Homo sapiens: one gene and its partners. The protein of the gene in region 1 purifies or fractionates together with the protein of each later gene. This does not show direct contact. Each region holds a gene or a part of one and is shown in the gene's direction. Other genes may lie near its edges.

What was found. The genes of interacting proteins can lie anywhere in the genome.
Region 2: the proteins of WDR82 (region 1) and PPP1CC purify together in Homo sapiens (affinity purification with mass spectrometry; 5 studies listed by BioGRID and IntAct, with this or other methods). This does not show direct contact.
Region 3: the proteins of WDR82 (region 1) and PPP1CB purify together in Homo sapiens (affinity purification with mass spectrometry; 5 studies listed by BioGRID and IntAct, with this or other methods). This does not show direct contact.

The regions. Positions count from the first base shown.
Region 1 is NC_000003.12:52,275,644-52,282,723, reverse strand, and holds the start of WDR82 (WD repeat-containing protein 82), read left to right. Parts: upstream 1-4,074; 5' UTR 4,075-4,362; coding exon 4,363-4,523; intron 4,524-7,080. UniProt on the Homo sapiens protein: Regulatory component of the SET1/COMPASS complex implicated in the tethering of this complex to transcriptional start sites of active genes.
Region 2 is NC_000012.12:110,725,865-110,732,891, reverse strand, and holds part of PPP1CC (serine/threonine-protein phosphatase PP1-gamma catalytic subunit), read left to right. Parts: intron 1-990; coding exon 991-1,122; intron 1,123-2,132; coding exon 2,133-2,363; intron 2,364-7,027. UniProt on the Homo sapiens protein: Protein phosphatase that associates with over 200 regulatory proteins to form highly specific holoenzymes which dephosphorylate hundreds of biological targets.
Region 3 is NC_000002.12:28,796,830-28,803,467, forward strand, and holds the end of PPP1CB (serine/threonine-protein phosphatase PP1-beta catalytic subunit), read left to right. Parts: intron 1-2,369; coding exon 2,370-2,474; 3' UTR 2,475-6,111; downstream 6,112-6,638. UniProt on the Homo sapiens protein: Protein phosphatase that associates with over 200 regulatory proteins to form highly specific holoenzymes which dephosphorylate hundreds of biological targets.

The DNA.
Region 1 (7,080 bases):
CACCCACCTTGGCCTCCCAGAGTGCTGGGATTACAGGCATGAGCCACTGTGCCTGGCCCTTATCTGAGGAATTTAGAAGGGAGCAAAGACCACCTGGTAACCATCCAACAGGCCATCCAGAGGCAAAACTCCTTATCTGGGGAAATTAGAAGTAATTAAACTTCCCTAGTATCTAAAGTGGGCATCTGGTTCCAGGCCTCTTTCAACTTTTATAAGTAACTAAAATTTCTAGGCATCTCTGGAATGTCATGCTGAAACTAATTTTACAACCCTAAGCTCCTGCCTGAAGGTCCATAAATGCACCTAAGGAAAATCCACCAAGGCCCTCAGTCCTCTCGCTGGGGTGCCCCGCTGCACTCTTCTGCAGCGTTCTTTCTTTCTAAGAAATTTTCCTTTTTCAAACCTATACTGTTGTCAGTAAATTTTTTGCCAACCTGTGAGGCGACCACTTCCTGGTGCTGGGGCTCAGACACCTCACCAGGCATTTTGTGTTCTAGTGTTCTGCGTTTCCTCTTTGGCAATTAAGCTCACACACACACACACTCAACTGTCCCAAAGAAGAGAGTCACCTGATTCTAGTTATTCCGAGGGCTGTGTAAGCACTGATACACACACACACTGTCACACTTACACACATGCAACTGTCCCAAAGAAGAGAGTCACCTGATTCTAGTTATTCCAAGGGTTGAGTAAGACGTTAGTCAATCTCTAGGGAAGCCCTGCTGCTGGGCACTGGAGCTCAGAAATTTATCTCAAAGAATTAGAATTCATAAGGAGCTCTGTGTTTTGGAAAGAGGACACATTGTTTAGGACAGTTTCCATTCCAATTGTGCAGCATGAAATAGAAAAATTTAATAAGTGGGCCAATCAAGTATCTGGAATCCTTTGGATAAATTCATTTATTCAATTAATCCATACTGAGCTCTGGCTGGGCTCTGGACAAAATGGGAAGCAAAATTACTTTACAGCCATATAATAGAATAGTTTGTAGCCATTCAAAATGATTGTATCGATATTTATTGACCTGGAATATGTTCATAGTATGGGTAAACTTACAAACAATATATTATGAACCCAATAAAAATATATTTCAGGGATTGGCTGGGTGTGGTGGCTCATGCCTGTAATCCCAGCACTTTGGGATGGTGAGGCAGGCAGATCACCTGAGGTCAGCAGTTCAAGACCAGCCAGGCCAACATGATAAAACCTCGTCTGTACTAAAAATACAAAATTAGCTGGGCGTGGTGGCGGGCATCTATAGGAGGCTGAGGCAGGAGAATCACTTGAACCCAGGACATGGAGGTTACAGTGAGCTGAGAGCACGCCACTGCACTCCAGTCTGGGTGACAGAGCAGGAAAAAAAAAAAAAAAAAAAAAAAAAAAATATATATATATATATATATGTATATGAAAAAATCGGAAAGGTTCTACATCAAAATGGTAAATTTCGTGTTATATATATTTCACTATAATAAAAGATTGTAACAGTGGCTATCTCTGGATGCTGTTTTTATTATTTGTATTTTTTAGTTTTTTTGCAATGAATATGTGACAAGTAAAAGAATGACTACAAATAAAAGGAAACATAAAAAATTAAGTCTGATGCTCTTTTAAAGCCCATCTGATTCACTCTTGACTGCAGCTTTCTCTCCATCCACCCATCCACTGGAGCCGGCTTTCTGTGTCACTTTTTAAAGTCCATTTTTTTTTTTTTTTTGAGACGGAGTCTTGCTCTAATGCCCAGTGCAGTGGTGTGATCTCGGCTCACTACAACCTCTGCCTCCCGGATTCAAGCGATTCTCCTGCCTCAGCCTCCCAAGTAGCTGGGATTACAGGTGCCCGCCACTGTGCCCAGCTAATTTTTGTATTTTTAATAGAGACAGGGTTTCACCATTTTGGCCAGGCTGGTTTTGAACTCCCGACCTTGTGATCTACCCACCTCGGCCTCCCAAAGTGCCACCGCACCTGGCCTAAAGTCCATCCTTTAAGGCAACCATACTGTTGGGCTGGAAGCCAGGAGAGCCCCACTATAATAGGGCAGGGAGCCAGGCTAGGAATTGGAAACAGTAAGAATGCGAAACAGGATGAGGATTTGAAGACCCTCTTAAAAATGGGGGAAAAAAAAAAAGACTGCATTCCAAAAATAATGCAGAAAGTCAAGTCTTGGGAGGAAGGTTTGGTCTTAACGGTGAAATCTGGAAAAGGTATAGGAAGTACAATACTTGAAAAATACCCTGCAAAGATTTATTTTGGCTGGCAACATTCAGTAGATTACAGCTGTTTCTGTGGTTATTTTTGTAGATTAACATGGACCAAAATATGGCATCATCTTACTGGGTGTGTTCACTTCCCGACAGTTCTAGAACATGGTACTCGATCTGTCCTTGTTGCCTTCTAAACTATTCGAAGCAGACGCTGTATCAGACTTTCTAGCTTCTGAAATAAAGGCACAGGAATTACAGGGAAGCAGAGCAAGTGATCTGGGACGTGGAGGGTTTTTCTTCCATTGTGTGCAGTTTGGAAAGTTGCCATCTATTCAGGTTTCACTCAAACCGGCTTTTTCCAGACCCCAGAACAAATTGTAGCCAGAAGCTCTGCTCTTTGTCAGGAGGCAATTATACCCCAGACTTAGCCAGGAACTTGCCTCTTCCCTTAGAGAACAACTTCTCTTTATGTATAAGGATCCTGGCTCTCCTTTTACCCAGGGGGTTGGGATACAGCCTCTAGTTCTTTCTAGAAAGACCCCAACTGTCCCAGGGTTTCCATTTTGTTTTTTACCATTGCACAGGTCTCTGGATAATAACCTTCCTAATAGCGACTGAAATGTCTCACAGCCTTTCCTCGTTTTTGTTTCTCTTTAGCTAAAGAAAGCAAAAATAAATAATCCCCATCTTCATTGTTGGAAACCCCAGGCAATTAACCTTTTGAGGAGCTTCACACAAGATACAGATCTGTGAAGCCACATAGGTTGGCATTGAGTTTAACCCCTTGCCCAGAAAGTTAAGGTTAGGAAGCTTGGTTCCTATTTTCTGTTCAAATACTGCTTTCCTTTGTTAGAGATAAACTTTCTTTTAAGGCAAATAATCACTTATATGATAGAACCTTTAAAATAATCCTGTTGACTACAAACAGGATAGTGCAACTCTTCCAAATCTTGAATGTGGTGGTGACTGCATGACTGTGTATGGGTGTCAGAACATAAAACTAGCCACTAAAAAGGCTAATTTTTGGGGGGAAACCGTCTGCTCTGTCGCCCAGCCTGGAATGCAGTGGCACGATTTCGGCGCACTGCAGCCTCCGCCTTTCTCAATTCTCGTGCCTCAGCCGCGCCATCATGCCCGGCTAATTTTTTGTATTTTAGTAGAGGTGGGGTTTTGTCATGTTGGCCAGGCTGGTCTCAACTCCTGAGCTCAAGCGATCATCCCGCCTCGGCCTCCCAAAGTGGTGGGTTTAAAGGCGTGAGCCACCGCGCCCGGCCTAAAAAGGCTGATTTTTACTGTACCTAAAGTCTACCTCGATTAAGAAAACGAGGCCGGGTGCGGGTGAGGTCAGGAGTTCGAGACCAGCCTGGCCAACATGGTGAACCCCCGTCTCTACCAAAAATACAAAATTAGCTGGGCGTGGTGGCGCGCGCCTGAGCGAGAGACTCCATCTCCAAAAAAAAAAAAAAAAGTAAAGAGGTCGAAGCTGTCTAAGCGGACGCTGCGGTGGACTAGCGGTCAAGCTTGCCTGCGAGCGGCTCACCTGAGTCACCCCCAAAACCGGCCTCCAGCAGCATACCCGACCCTGCAGTACCCCCTCCCACGCAGCCTGCGATCGGGACGCCTGCAGGAGGCGCCAGAGTCTTCGCGGGGGTTGCAATCCCGCGCAAGGGCCCCCGGCTCCCAAGGCATCCGCAACCTTCCGATCCCCCGGGAAGGCCCTGCACGTCTCGGCCGCTCCCTGCCAGCAGCCCGCCCCGCCACTACACTCCGCCGCGGCCGCGCTGACGTCACCACCCCGCCTCCCCGCCTTGCTCCGCCGTTCCCGCCCCGCCCCCTTTCCCGGCGTGCGCCGCGGCTGAGGCTCCTCGCCCTCAGCTTCTGCCTGTCGCCCCAAAATGGCGGACACAATGAGCCGGCGACGCGCCGGTTGTCCGTGAGGTGGCTGTGAGGACGAACGGTCGGCGAGGCTCCACAGTCCAGGCAGAAGACCCTCGACCAAGCAGGAAGAAGAGGAGGAGGCGGCCCAACTGTTGGCCGACTTCCCGCTAGCCGCCGGCGCGGCGCCCGCCCCGCCTGGGTTGGCCCCTCGGCAGCCCGCCCGCTCGCCGCCGGGCCCCGCCCCGGCCCTGCGCCGCCGCTGCCTTCCCCAGCCGCCGCCATGAAGCTGACCGACAGCGTGTTGCGGAGCTTCCGCGTCGCTAAGGTGTTCCGCGAAAACTCGGACAAGATTAACTGCTTCGATTTCAGCCCCAACGGCGAGACGGTCATCTCGAGTAGCGACGACGACTCCATCGTGCTCTATGACTGCCAGGAGGGCAAGTGAGTGCGGCGGAGGCCCTGGGCCCGAGTCTCAGTGCCTCCCTCCGGTGGCCCAGCACAGGTCCCTCGGCCTGCCCTCCGTCCCGACTTCAGCCCCCAGCCTATTTTGCACGCGTTCCTGCCAGGGCCGCCTCCACCCCGCAGCCGTCCAGGAGACCTTTTATTTTTTTCTTCTTAAAAAAAAAAGATAACGATAGTCATAATTTTATAATATTATTTGTATGTCTTCGGTCTCCTTTGAGCGCTATGCATCACTTGCCAAACCCCACCTTGACCTTGACCTTTAAACGCCCGGTCCGCCCACCCTGGGCCCACCAGGTAGCGTTTTCAGCTCCTCAGGCTGTCAAAGGTGCTGGTCTGCTCCGGCCTCGACGCAGGACTGCAGGGGCTGCTTTTCTGCCTCCTTCGGCAGCGTCAGCTCTCTCTTGTGCTCTCTCCACTGTGACCTCGATTCCGCCCTGGCACTCCGCCCATCCCCTGCCCCTCAGCTTCCCGCGGCCTTTCTGCCGTCAGACCGCGTGGGTTGCACTTCTTAGCTGTCAGGATTTATTTGTTGTGCCCCTTTGAGCCCCCTTGCTTTTTCTTCCTGCTCCTAGCCTTTCTCTTACTCATTCAGACTTGGTGCCCACGTTCATAAGTGAACTTTTCAGCAACATCTAAAACTTCCTTTTTGCCACACACAAACGAACTTGGTCGTCCCATCCTGACCTGAATGTGAGCTTCCGTTAAAACAAAGCAAGCATCGTAGAACAATTTCAGGTTTCCTTTCATACTTTTTTTTTTCTATTACACTTTTTGGTCCACTTTGAATTCCAATTCTGATCATGAAACTTTTATGTTGCCACAAGTCATCTGGAGACCCACCATACCTGCATCTTTTCGCAAAATCTAAGCACAGCACTTTGCCTTTTTCCCTGGGGGTCCTTGTCAGCCCTCCTCACCGCACGCCTGTGGACTTGCAGCTCCTTGGAGCCAAAAACTAGTTTAGATTAAATTCGTTTTACCCTTAGCCACCTTCCCCAAGAAGGCTTGCTGATGTTTGGTTTAATTCGGTGGACCCTGGTTTTTTCAGACTTGATTTTGTCACCTAGTAACAGATATTATTATTATTATTATTATTATTATTATTATTATTTGAGATCTTGGGTTTTTCTCCACCTTCTCCAGCTGTTCCTTTTTCCTTTTTTTTTTTTTAGACTGGTGTCCTTCTTTTGGAACATATCTCTTCATTTGTGAATTTGATTATCTGAAGTAATGCTAGTTTGGACTGAGCTATAATGGTATCCCCCCAGTTTTTTTCCCCACTGGGGCTGTGAGAAAGTATTATGTAACCGGCTCTGGATCTGCCTGCAGTTTGTGGCAGAGTGGTCTGCAGTGGTGGTCTTAAGGAAGAGGGAATTGTTAGCTGGACAAATAGTTATTTGAGTCAGTGTTACTCATTGAGTAGATGGATTTCTGTCCTGGTCTGGTCACTTGAATCAGTTTAGAAGACGAAGTAACATTTAAAGGTGTGGTAGTAGGGTCAGCATTGTGGGGTCCTGGAGGAGTAATTTGAAGCTGGCTTGCATGAAATGTATAGTGCTTATGCACAGATTAGAACCTCTTCCCAGAACCTGAGGGTGGAGATGTATATCCTCATTTAAAGGAAATGAAGGTTGTTATAGCATTTCTTTGCAGTTTGTCCCCAAATTTGGCGTAATTTTGATTTGGGAAGGATGACCTTGACATGAAGTCCTGTCTTTCTTTTTTTTGTTTTTTTTTTTCGGGTGGGGGACGGAGTCTCTCTCCGTCGCCCAGGCTGGAGTGTAGTGGCGCGATCTTGGCTCACTGCAACCTCTGCCTCCCGGGTTCAAGCGATTCTCCTGCCTCACCCTCACAAATAGCTGGGATTACAGGCGCCTGCCACCATACCCTAACTTTTGTATTTTTAGTAGAGATGGGGTTTCACCATGTTGACCAGACTGGTCTTGAACTCCTGACCTCAAGTGATCCACCCGCCTTGGCCTTCCAAAGTGCTAGGATTATAGGCATGAGCTGCTGTGCCTGGCCAAATCCTGTCTTGTTAAAAGTAAAATGCTAGTTTTGTGACATAAGGCAGTTTATTTACTCGTAGCATTTTTACATAATTAGAAACTAACAAAGTTACAGTGTTTCAAAGAACTCCCATATGATTCAATAACTGGTTACATTTTCTGCATTTGCTTCATGACTGTAGGTAAATATTTATATGTACTGTGTGCCTCCCCCCACCTTTAGAGTTGGAGGTATCAAGCCCCTTTATCCCTAAACACTTCAACATGGATTTTCTTTCTTTTTTGAGATGGAGTCTCGCTCAGTCGCCCAGGCTGGAGTGCAGTGGCGTGATCTTGGCTCACTGCAACCTCCGGCTCCTGGGTTCAAGCGATTCTCCTGCCTCAGCCTCCTGAGTAGCTGGGATTACAGGTGCATGCCACCATGCCTGGCTAATTTTTGTATCTTTAGTAGAGGCAGGGTTTCACCATGTTGGTCAGGCTGGTCTTGAACTCCTGATCTCGTGATCTACCCGCCTCAGCCTCCC
Region 2 (7,027 bases), on another chromosome or scaffold:
ATCTGTATCTAATGACTATCCAGTCTGTTACAACTGGAACCAAAACAAAATTTCTTTCCCACAACTACCTACGTGCTGACAAGTGAGTTCTGTTGCAAAGTTTGTACTTTGATAGAAGAACCCTAAGTGCTCTGGTGGTGTGGATGCCCCATGCTGTGCAATGATTTCTTTCTCCCATTATTATCTTATCTGTTCAAATTATTAGGGAACGTGCTTTCTTACAGTATAGCACATGACTGACATCCTTTGCCCTATATAGACATGAGCATAAACACAAATGCAGGCCCAGAAAATGCATGGCAAAATAAGTACAATGAACCAACATTTTCTTAATGAAATGAAAACAACACTAACATTTTTTCATAGGTAAATTAAATCAGAGATCCTCAGGAGGAGATACCCATGGTCCTCTGGAAAACACTGATGGGGGAGGGTTCTGAGTATTTCCAATCCTGTTTCTTTTCTTTTCTTTTCTTTCCTTTTCTTTTTTTTTTTTGAGACGGAGTCTCGCTGTGTTGCCAGGCTGGAGTGCAGTGGCGCGATCTTGGCTCACTGCAACCTCCGCCTCCCGGGTGCAGGCGATTCTCCTGAGTAGCTGGGATTACAGGTGCACGCCATGTTGGCGAGGATGGTCTGGATCTCTTGACCTCATCATGATCTGCCCGCCTCACCCTCCCAAAGTGCTGGGATTACAAGCGTGAGCCATTGCATCTGGCCTGCAGTCCTGTTTCTAACAGCATTCGCACAGACAGGATGGCTCCTTTTTTGGAATACTATAAAAGAAGTCTTACTTGGTATCGAAGATGCAATTAAGTCTTGTCTAAGATTTTAAGATTCTAATTAGACATTAAAACCATGTTTATTATAAGTGTCCTGAAAATGAAGCCACTCAGAAAGCTAGTTAAACCATGTTTTTGCCCCTTTATCTAAATCTCGTATTGTATTTTGTATTTTGGCTTCATTGGACTAATTGCGATTTTTCTCTTGCAGTGAGAGGGTCCAAGCCTGGTAAGAATGTCCAGCTTCAGGAGAATGAAATCAGAGGACTGTGCTTAAAGTCTCGTGAAATCTTTCTCAGTCAGCCTATCCTACTAGAACTTGAAGCACCACTCAAAATATGTGGTAAGTTTGGGGCACACAGGTTATCTTTTGTTACATGATTGATTAACTGAGTCAAGGATATGTTGATGACCTTGTATTAGCTAGCAGAATGATTATCCTGTTTGCGAATAGCTTGGAACTACTTAAAAGTAAGTTAAATAGTAGCTTTAGAATAAATACCTCTAATGGACTTAGTTTACTTAGATGTACTTCAGATTTTTAAAAAAAATATTTTGCTGAAGGAATAAACATTGCAAAAGAAAAAAATGAAACTAAGAATGGAGAGCTGAGGAAAGGTCTGAACTACATGGATGTATAGGAATATGTTTAAGTTTAAAGCAACACTGGTTATAGCTAAAAATAGAACTTCCTTGATACTGATTTTGTGGTTCTGTTTTCTGCATAATAGAAGCAAATAATCTGTGTTTTAACTCAATGTAAAACCAAACTTTATTCGTTTGAGTAATATATTCTTATAGCATATTTGCATTGATAAAACTTTGTGTTCATGTTTTTAAAAGTAAAATGTTCTTTGGCATTATCTAGCAGGGAGAAATTGAAAGCTAAATGCATTGATGGGTGGGGGGTGGGGGTGGTGTGTATGTGTGTATGTGCTTTTGTTCAGATGGGGCCAAGACTCACTAGAAGTGCAGCAGTTCTGCTGACACAGTACCCAGAGACTGAGCTGTCAGAGATCTGATATTGATCAGTCAGCCTGAAAGGGATACCATGTTACTTGGCAAGAATGCATGCTTGGACATAATAACCCTTTCCACAGAATAAATTCTTAATAGTTGAATTTTATGTGAGGTTCTGGACATACACATATACTTAAAATTTTTGTTAAGCTCAGTTGAACTAAATATGATATAAGATTGGAAATTACTTAGTGTTGGCTGCCCAGTTAAACTCTCATTACTAGAGGTCAATGCCATTGTACAATGAATATTTAAAGAATGTCTTTCCAAAGCTTTGTTAGTGGATTGAGCTTTAAGTATGGGAACACTGTGTAACAAAATTCTTGCTTCCAGGTGACATCCATGGACAATACTATGATTTGCTGCGACTTTTTGAGTACGGTGGTTTCCCACCAGAAAGCAACTACCTGTTTCTTGGGGACTATGTGGACAGGGGAAAGCAGTCATTGGAGACGATCTGCCTCTTACTGGCCTACAAAATAAAATATCCTGAGAATTTTTTTCTTCTCAGAGGGAACCATGAATGTGCCAGCATCAACAGAATTTATGGATTTTATGATGAATGTAAGTACTTTTCTATATCTAAGGAAGAGTTATTGAAATTAAGATATTTATCATAAACAATTATCACATACTTCTGTTAGGAATTGTGAGAGTTTAGATGCAGTGGTATCATCTCTCATGTTTTCTATTTCATCAACTTGTTTTTAGCTTAGCTTTTTTAGGGGGGTGGGGGAACGGAGTCTCACTCTGTTGCCCAGGCTGGAGTGCAGTAGCACCATCTTACCTCATTGCAACCTCTGCCTCCCAGGCTCAAGCAATCCTCCTGCCTCAGCCTCCCAGGTAGCTAGGACTGCAGACATGCATCACCACGCTTGGCTAATTTGTGTATTTTTTTGAAGAGATGGGGTTTCACCTTGTTGCCCAAGCTGATCTGAAACTCCTGGCTCAAGGAATCTGCCCGCCTAGGCCACTCAAAGTACTGGGATTACTGGCGTGAGCCATGATGCCCAGCCAGTTTTTTCTCTCTTGGGTAGAAAAATAACACTGCCGCTGTAATAAAATAAGGTCTTGGATTCTTTTATGATGTGATGATCAGATTAGGAAGTAATGATCATGGTAATGGTTGCTTTAAGATTTAAATTGTTGTATTCACAGATAACTTAATTCTTAGTAGAAATCTGAGAACCATTCCAAATAGTTTTTTTAAGCAACTTTATTATGTAATTTCATTCCATAAAATTATTCTGTTAAAAGTGTACAATTCAGCGATTTGTAGTAAATTTATAGAGTTATGCGACCATCACCATAGTCCCCAGGCAACCACTAATCTACTTTTTGTCTTTTCTAGAGAATATTGCATGCAAATGGAATCTTGCAATACGTAAATAATTAGTTTTTGAAATTATTATAGTTTTTCTCCTTCTGGCATATCCACACCCAGGAAGAATGGCAATAACTTTCCTAAAACTAAAATGTGCTGAACAAAGATTATTTTTACAGTATTTTACACATTTTGTGACCCATTTTGGATTGTTTAATTAAAGGTATACTTCGATTTGACTATTGACAAAACACAGTTCTTAAAGCTTTGAAAATAGGCTGGGCACAGTGGCTCACGCCTGTAATCCCAGCACTTTGGGAGGCCACAGCGGGTGGATCACAAGGTCAAGAGATCAAGACCGTCCTGGCCAACATGAGGAAACCTCATCTCTACTAAAAATACAAAAATTAGCCAGGCGTGGTGGCAGATGCCTGTAGTCCCAGCTACTCAGGAGGCTCAGGCAGGAGAATCACTTGAACCCAGGAGTCGGAGGTTGCAGTGAGCCAAAATCACACCACAGTAGTCCAGCCTGGGTGGCAGAGTGAGACTCCGTCTCAAAAAAAAAAAAAAAAAAAAGCTTTGAAAATATCAGTTCAGTAAAGGGTTTCAAGTCAGAAAAGGTTTTGAATCTTTACCTTCACCTTCCTTTTGTGCTCATCATTGCTGCCAGGACGGGTTTCAGGTTTGGAGTGAAGAGGTGGTTAAGGAACTTCAGGTACTTGGCATTTGCTAATATGATTATAGGGATATCAGCAAAGGGTTGTCCCTGTGGCCCTCCCCTAGACCACATCGTAACCTAGAGTCTCCAGATGCAGTGTTTTTCCATCTCAATTCACATAGATATGTTGAGCTAGCACATTTGTTAGAAGTGCATCCTAGAAAGATTATATTCACAAACTGAGCCCTTCTACTACCACCCTTTCCCACAACTGGATGTTTGCTTGGTCTGTGACCTTGAGATCCAGCTGATAAGATGGGGTGGCAGGAATCATCAGGGACAAAAATTCTATGGGTTCTGGACTGACTGATAGCATTGAACTTGTACATGAAAGGTATTCAATATTAACAGTGATTCTGTGTCAGAGAAGTACCAGTAAGCCAGTTACTACTCCTTAGGTAGTGAAATGCAAGGCAGGTGTGATGGGTTTTTTTTGTTTGTTTTTGAGACAGAGCCTTAGGCTGGAGTGCAGAGGTGGGATCATAGCTTACTACCACCTGTAATTTCTGGGTTTAAGCAATCCTTTCACCTCAGCCTCCCTAAGTGCTGGGATTACAGTCATGAGCCACCACACCCAGCCAACACTGTGTTTTGGATACTTATTCCAAGTGTTACTCTTGAGTTTTTTGTTTTTTGTTTTTTTTTTTTTTTTTGAGACGGAGTCTCGCTCTGTCGCCCAGGCTGGAGTGCAGGGCGCGATCTCGCCTCACTGCAAGCTCCGCCTCCTGGGTTCACGCCATTCTCCTGCCTCAGCCTCCCGAGTAGCTGGGACTACAGGCGCCCGCCACTACGCCCGGCTAATTTTTTGTATTTTTAGTAGAGGCGGGGTTTCACTGTGTTAGCCAGGATGGTCTCGATCTCCTGACCTCATGATCCGCCCGCCTCTGCTTCCCAAAGTGCTGGGATTACAGGCGTGAGCCACCGTGCCTGGCCTGCTCTTGAGTTAAAGGATTCCTTTTACATAGCTGTTAGCCCAGCAAATACTTTTCATGTTTGCACTGATGAATTCAAATCCAGTTGACCTCATTTTTGTGACGTGTATCCTAATGTAATGATACTGGCTGCATCAGTTTCGGTTTCTACTTAATGCAGAGGCCTTTAAAAAATGACTTAGAAGATCAGTGTTGGTTGGTATCAGTTTCGACTCCTGTTTGGTCATCAACACAATTTGTAGATCTTATGCTCAAGCTTCCTCTCTCTCATCAGGCAGATATAATTTGCCATCCAGTCTACTTGTGGGCATGAAAGTGCCCTTGACATAGGTGGCTTTTGGTTGAAGGCTTGCAGACATTTAATATATATATAAAATACTTAACTAATTTTATTAAAATGAAAAGTTGTATTCAAATGTTGATTTTCATGGGACAATTTAAAAACCACTGCCTGTTTTCCAGGTACATAAGTACTTTATACTACCATTTCTTTTTTTTTTTTTTTTAACTTTGTAAATGTGATGGAAAGGCTGAGGTATATGTTGTTGGGTAAAACATGAGTGTTTGTTGATCTGTTTCTGCTGCCGTAGCTGTCTGATGTACAGTAATGCGAAACCGCATTACAGGTTATGGCTCAGAATCTTAGGATTTGGAAGCTAGGCGATTACCCTGGCTAAACCTTTCAGGAGCCAGATGTTCCTAGTGGTCTGAGGTAGCCTTAGGGAGGAAATGAAGAGAGAATAGAAAGAGGCAGGCCCACGCTTAAAGTGCTGAGAGGGAAAAGGAGGAAACAAACTGATTTTTGATGGAGAAGCCAGCAGGAATCAGCAGGAGAAGCTGGAGTATGTGGCATAACTAAAGAATCAAAGCCGGGGCGTGGTAGCTCACGCCTGTAATCCCAGCACTTTGGGAGGCCAAGGTGGGTGGATCACTTGAGGTCAGGAGTTCAACCTGATCACAAGAGGTCAGGAGGTCTGACCAACATGGGGAAAACCCATCTCTATTAAAAATACAAAAATTAGCTGTGGTGGTGCACACCTGTAGTCGCGGACACTCAGGAGATTGAGGCAGGAAAATCACTGGAACCTGGGAGACCATGGTTGCAGTGAGCCAAGATTGCGTCGCTTCATTCCCCCTAGGTGATGCAGTGAGACCCCACCTCAAAAAAAGTATCCAGAAGTGAAGCTGACCTTGGGGAAAGAGGAAGTCACTGTCACTGGGGAGCTAAGACAGCAGCTCTGTTTTTATAATACAGGTTAAGTATTCCTTACCGGGAATGCTTGGCACTAGAAGTGTTGCAGGTTTTTTGTTTTTGTTTTTAATTTTGGAATATTTGTGTTATAATTACTGGTTAAACATCCCTAATCCAAAAATCTGAAATCCAGAATGCTCCAGTGAGCATTTCCTTTGAGCATCATGTGAGTGCTCAAAAAGTTCCAAATTTTGGAGCATCTTGGATTAAGGATACTCATCCTGTGGTGGTAGTAGTAGTAGTATTGCTGTTGGAAATGGGAGTTGGTGGTTTTTGGAGATTGCCCTTCAGCCTTTCGTAAGAAGGAGTTTGCTTTTTTTTGAGACGGAGTTTCACTCTTGTTGCCCATGCTGGAGTGCAATGGTGCGATCTTGGCTTACTGCAACCTCTGCCTCCCAGGTTCAAGCAATTTTCCTTCCTCAGCCTGGCGGGAGAAGTTTGTTAAACTTTCCGAACCCCCTAGTGAAGGACCTCTAAAGAAATATGCAACAGGGTGAACCATAGTCAGTGTTAGACCCAGTCATTGAGAAACCAGAAATTATTAGGAGAAAAGATAACACTCCTCTGCAGAGAGAAGGCAAACATTTGTTGAATTTACATTTCATTTCAAGCCCTGTGGTAAACTCCCTAAGCTGCTTGATTTGCATTACAGGGTGGGAGGTGTGGTTCAGGTCAGTTGCTTGGGCTGGCTCTAACTCTCAAAGGAGAGGTATAGGTTTAAACCTTTAGATGTCCCTGTATTCCCCAGGAAAAGAGACTAAGGACAAACTCTTGGTTTGTTTTGTTTGTTTTGTTTTGTTTTTTGAGACGGAGTTTCGCTCTTGTTGCCCAAGCCGGAGTGCAATGGCACAATCAAGGCTCACCGCAACCTCCGCCTCCCAGGTTCAAGTGACTCTTCTGCCTTAGCCTCCCAAGTAGCTGGGATTACAGGCATGCGCCACCACGCCCAGCTAATTTTTATATTTTTAGTAGAGACGGGATTTCTTCATGTTGGTCAGGCTG
Region 3 (6,638 bases), on another chromosome or scaffold:
ATGGTCATCCTAGTCTCTTGTTCCAGTTCTCAAGGGGAATGCTTCCAGCATTTCCCTTTTCAGTACGATGTTGGCTGTGGGTTTGTCAGATGGCTCTTACTATTTTGAGGTATGTTCCTAATTTTTCAGTGCCTAATTTGTTGAGGGTTTTTAACATGAAAGGGTGTTGAATTGTATTGAAAGCCTTTCTGCATCTATTGAGATGATCATATGGTGTTTGTTTTTAATTTTATGAGGTGAATCACATTTATTGATTTGCATATGTTGAAACCTTGCACCCCAGGAATAAACCCTTCTTGATTGTGGTGAGTTAACTTTTTGATGTGTTGCTGGATTCGGTTTTAGTATTTTGTTGACGATTTTGCATCTGTGTTCATCAGGGATATTGGCCTGAGGTTTTCTTTTTTCCTTGTGCCTCTGCTAGGTTTTGGTATTACAATGATGCTCACTTCGTAGACTGAGTTAGGGGGGAGGTCCTCTTCCTGGATTGTTTGGAATAGTTTCAGTAGGATTGGTACTAGCTCTTTGTACATCTGATATAATTCAGCTGTGAATCTTTCTGGGCCAGGGCTTTTTTTGGTTTATAGGTTTTTTTATTACTGATTCAGTTTTGGAACTTGTTATTGTTCTGTTCAGGATTTTAATTTCCTCCTGGTTCAGTCTTCGGAGTTTGTGTGTGTTTCTATGAATTTATTCATTTCTTAGGAGGTCATGTGTGTTTCTATGAATTCATTTCTTGGGAGCGCATGTGTGTTTTTGTGAATGTATTCATTTATTCTAGGTTTCCTAGTTTGTGTGCACAGGTGTTTATAATCTCTAGGTATTTTGTATGTCTGTGGGGTTGGTTGTAATGTCACCTTTCTCATTTCAGATTGTGCTTATTTGGATCTTTTCTTAATCTAGCTAGCAGTCTATCTTGTTTATTCTTTTGAAGAACCAACTTTTGGTTTCAACATTTACATTTTTAAAAGAGGCCAGTTTTAGCTTTAGTGTGCTCCTACAAATCATTCTTGTTCACTGAGTAAAACAGCTTCAGTACTTTGCTTTTGCAAAGGCTATTCTATGTCTTTGATGTACACACACTGTATTTCTCTTAAAATGCATTGGGGCTTTCCCATTCCTCTTTCTCTTTATCATAATATACTGTTTCCATCAATTAGTACAATTGAATGGTAAATGGTTGATTGCTCATTTACAAATTAAATATAGTAACCATACCTTATCCTTCCAGCAGTTGTCATAGTGGTGTTGGATTAATATATTCTCTTCACTAAGGCACTATTATGTTCTAAATAGTTTTTAAAAAATACTTTGTACATATTTCTATACTGTTTTAGTTTTGGAAAATCATGACTTTTTTATGTATAATGTAGGTTAAAGCTCTATTTACATCCACCAGAATGAGTGTAGTAAAAAAGCCAGACTGTATCAAGTTTTGGCAAGGATTTGGAGGCATTAGAATCTTCATACATTAATGGTGGGAATAGAGTTCTCATATGATGCAGCAGTTTTACCTCTAGGTATATACCCAAGATATATGAAAACATGTTCACACAAAAACTGTTACATAAATGTGCATTATTCCTTATAGCCGAAAAAGTCACACAATTCAGATGTCCATCAGCTACTGAATAGATAAACTGTGGTACATCCATACAATGGACTGTACAATGTACAACTCAGCAATAAAAAGGAATGAAGGACTGATACTTCAAAACTGGTTTTGAAAACCTGAGTGAAAGAAGCCAGTCACAAAAGACCACATATTATATGATGCCAGTTATATGAAATGTTCAGAATAGGCAATTCTATAGAGACACATAGTAGATTAGTAGTTGGTTAGAGTTAGAGGATGTGGAGAGCAGGAATGGGGAGTGACTGCTGATGGGAACAAGCTTTCTTTTTGGGGTGACAAATGTTCTAAAATTAGATTTATATCAATAAAGCTGTTTTTTAAGTAAAAAGATCTATTTATACATAAATAAATAAGGTCTGAAGGGTTTGTGACTTGTAGGTTAGTTACCCTCCTAAGTTACTGTATCAGAATTATGATGACAACATAGATCTTCTGACTCTTAAACCAGTGTTCTTTTCCTCACAACAGAGATACACTAAGTTCAAAAAGTTTTTTACTTAAATCTAAGGATTGGATAGTTGATAGAGTTAGTGTACTTTTGTTATTAAAATATGAGTGGAATGACAAAGTTCAGACATTTGCACACTTTAAGAAATGTTTATGGAACTTTGCTATTCTACATTTTTATTGCATTTTTGCAGTTTATGCCATTTATTGAAAATCACAATTGTAACAATTTTCTTAACTTCTGTACATGAAAAAATAACATTATTTGTTAATAATTTACTTTAAGATATTGAAACCATCTGAAAAGAAAGCTAAATACCAGTATGGTGGACTGAATTCTGGACGTCCTGTCACTCCACCTCGAACAGCTAATCCGCCGAAGAAAAGGTGAAGAAAGGAATTCTGTAAAGAAACCATCAGATTTGTTAAGGACATACTTCATAATATATAAGTGTGCACTGTAAAACCATCCAGCCATTTGACACCCTTTATGATGTCACACCTTTAACTTAAGGAGACGGGTAAAGGATCTTAAATTTTTTTCTAATAGAAAGATGTGCTACACTGTATTGTAATAAGTATACTCTGTTATAGTCAACAAAGTTAAATCCAAATTCAAAATTATCCATTAAAGTTACATCTTCATGTATCACAATTTTTAAAGTTGAAAAGCATCCCAGTTAAACTAGATGTGATAGTTAAACCAGATGAAAGCATGATGATCCATCTGTGTAATGTGGTTTTAGTGTTGCTTGGTTGTTTAATTATTTTGAGCTTGTTTTGTTTTTGTTTGTTTTCACTAGAATAATGGCAAATACTTCTAATTTTTTTCCCTAAACATTTTTAAAAGTGAAATATGGGAAGAGCTTTACAGACATTCACCAACTATTATTTTCCCTTGTTTATCTACTTAGATATCTGTTTAATCTTACTAAGAAAACTTTCGCCTCATTACATTAAAAAGGAATTTTAGAGATTGATTGTTTTAAAAAAAAATACGCACATTGTCCAATCCAGTGATTTTAATCATACAGTTTGACTGGGCAAACTTTACAGCTGATAGTGAATATTTTGCTTTATACAGGAATTGACACTGATTTGGATTTGTGCACTCTAATTTTTAACTTATTGATGCTCTATTGTGCAGTAGCATTTCATTTAAGATAAGGCTCATATAGTATTACCCAACTAGTTGGTAATGTGATTATGTGGTACCTTGGCTTTAGGTTTTCATTCGCACGGAACACCTTTTGGCATGCTTAACTTCCTGGTAACACCTTCACCTGCATTGGTTTTCTTTTTCTTTTTTCTTTCTTTTTTTTTTTTTTTTTTTTTTTGAGTTGTTGTTTGTTTTTAGATCCACAGTACATGAGAATCCTTTTTTGACAAGCCTTGGAAAGCTGACACTGTCTCTTTTTCCTCCCTCTATACGAAGGATGTATTTAAATGAATGCTGGTCAGTGGGACATTTTGTCAACTATGGGTATTGGGTGCTTAACTGTCTAATATTGCCATGTGAATGTTGTATACGATTGTAAGGCTTATGTCACTAAAGATTTTTATTCTGATTTTTTCATAATCAAAGGTCATATGATACTGTATAGACAAGCTTTGTAGTGAAGTATAGTAGCAATAATTTCTGTACCTGATCAAGTTTATTGCAGCCTTTCTTTTCCTATTTCTTTTTTTTAAGGGTTAGTATTAACAAATGGCAATGAGTAGAAAAGTTAACATGAAGATTTTAGAAGGAGAGAACTTACAGGACACAGATTTGTGATTCTTTGACTGTGACACTATTGGATGTGATTCTAAAAGCTTTTATTGAGCATTGTCAAATTTGTAAGCTTCATAGGGATGGACATCATATCTATAATGCCCTTCTATATGTGCTACCATAGATGTGACATTTTTGACCTTAATATCGTCTTTGAAAATGTTAAATTGAGAAACCTGTTAACTTACATTTTATGAATTGGCACATTGTATTACTTACTGCAAGAGATATTTCATTTTCAGCACAGTGCAAAAGTTCTTTAAAATGCATATGTCTTTTTTTCTAATTCCGTTTTGTTTTAAAGCACATTTTAAATGTAGTTTTCTCATTTAGTAAAAGTTGTCTAATTGATATGAAGCCTGACTGATTTTTTTTTTCCTTACAGTGAGACATTTAAGCACACATTTTATTCACATAGATACTATGTCCTTGACATATTGAAATGATTCTTTTCTGAAAGTATTCATGATCTGCATATGATGTATTAGGTTAGGTCACAAAGGTTTTATCTGAGGTGATTTAAATAACTTCCTGATTGGAGTGTGTAAGCTGAGCGATTTCTAATAAAATTTTAGTTGTACACTTTTAGTAGTCATAGTGAAGCAGGTCTAGAAAATAAGCCTTTGGCAGGGAAAAAGGGCAATGTTGATTAATCTCAGTATTAAACCACATTAATCTGTATCCCATTGTCTGGCTTTTGTAAATTCATCCAGGTCAAGACTAAGTATGTTGGTTAATAGGAATCCTTTTTTTTTTTTTTAAAGACTAAATGTGAAAAAATAATCACTACTTAAGCTAATTAATATTGGTCATTAAATTTAAAGGATGGAAATTTATCATGTTTAAAAATTATTCAAGCACTCTTAAAACCACTTAAACAGCCTCCAGTCATAAAAATGTGTTCTTTACAAATATTTGCTTGGCAACACGACTTGAAATAAATAAAACTTTGTTTCTTAGGAGAAAATGATTCTGTAATTCCAGTGTCACTAATTTATATTGTTCTTTCCTCTGATTTTTTTCAGGTTAGTGATTTTTTTGTATACAATTTAATCCAAATGTTATGACATTCAGAAATCATGAAACACAGTAGATATCTGTTATAATGTGGTGTATCACATGGATTATAAAGCAAAGTTATGGTCGATTTCTATTCTTGAAAGAATCAACTACAGTGAATCCTTTGCATTTGAAGCCTTAACATGCATTGCTTTAATTTTGCCCAGGGACAAATTTTAATAATCAGCAAGACTGGTTTGTGCAAAGCGTTGAGTCATCAGGTATTTAGAGCCTAGCCAGCTACCCAGTATCCATGCTGCCATATCCCTTCATTGTAAAAAGTACCTAAACATTCGTGAAATGATTTTTTTTAGCTGAAAAATGCTGGCAAGAAGAATTTTAAAGCTTAAAATAGGTGGTAAATTTGAAGTATGAGTGTGTTCACGAGAAACATAGGCTTTTCAAAAAAATTTTTATTCAAGGCAAAGCAAGGAACATCTTGAGATATGTCTCAAGAATATAAAGATGTATTATTTTAAGCCAAGGAGCTGAAATATATCTCAGTTTATAAATTCAGGTATATTCTTTTTGTCTCCATGGCAACCATAACTTTTGAACCAAAAAAAATTGTTTTTACATCTTTATGCTGAAAATGTGTTTAGATTAGGAATATGGTCGGGCTGAATTTGCTGTTGCTCCCTAACCAAATCCACCTCTTGTTTTCCTTGTGAGTCCATGGCTAAATCAAAGCTGCCCCTGAGAAGAGACTTAATCCAAGCCTGATTGTACTAGTGGCATCACTTAGAAGTAGGCTTTCCCTCTTCCTAGTAGATCTCAATGTTTTATAATTCCTTAAAACAGCTGAAAATTGGGACAACATACTTTACGCAATGAACAGTAGTTAAATAGGAAATAAACTAGTTCCATATAAGTATACACCTAGAGTTTTAATTACCTTTATAATGTTTCTTAAAAGTGAAACTTAGATACAATTGTGATTGGATACTTAGATACTAAGTGAAACTTAGTGTAACAATTTTGATCTGTTAAATTGGATTTTACATGTACATTTGAATGCCAGAATTTCTAAATAAATCCCCTGGTTAGGAAATTTTAAAAGTCAAAGCTTGTTTTCTTCAACCACTACCTTCTACATTGGTTGACTTAGACCGTAAGCTTTTTAAGTTTCTCATTGTAATTTACCTTCTCATGCAGATTGCTGATGTTTTATTAAACCTTATTTTTACAAAAATGACCATAAATCTTTGCTTCTTTCCTCTTAGGGATCTTTGCTAGTTTATGTGATTATGAAATCTTACTTACAACACCACATTGTTTGGGGTATACAGGGTGGAAGATAGCAAGTGAACAGGGGGTGCGGGTGGGGAGGGTTTGTGTGTGTGTGTGTGTGTGTGTGTGTGTGTAAGAGAGAACAAACTAACGGCCTGAGGCTAATAGGTTCAGCATTCCTTTCAGATACTATATGCAAAAAGGTGGGAACCTAAGGTCTGTTCCTGGAGGCTTTTCAGTGAAGCCTGGCATAGGATCGGCAAGTTAAAATATGTATTAATTTTTACAGCTGCCTAATCAGAATGATTCAGCAGATTTACAGGCCAAATTTTTCCTACAAAACCAGTGACATCACAGCTAAACATCTAGAACTTTCATAGATTATTGTACAAATTTATTAAAAGGCACAGTAATTTATGGTCTATCATGTAAACACTGATTCTCGACAAAACCACAAAGGCAAGTAATACAGTGCAACAGAAAAAAGTAGTC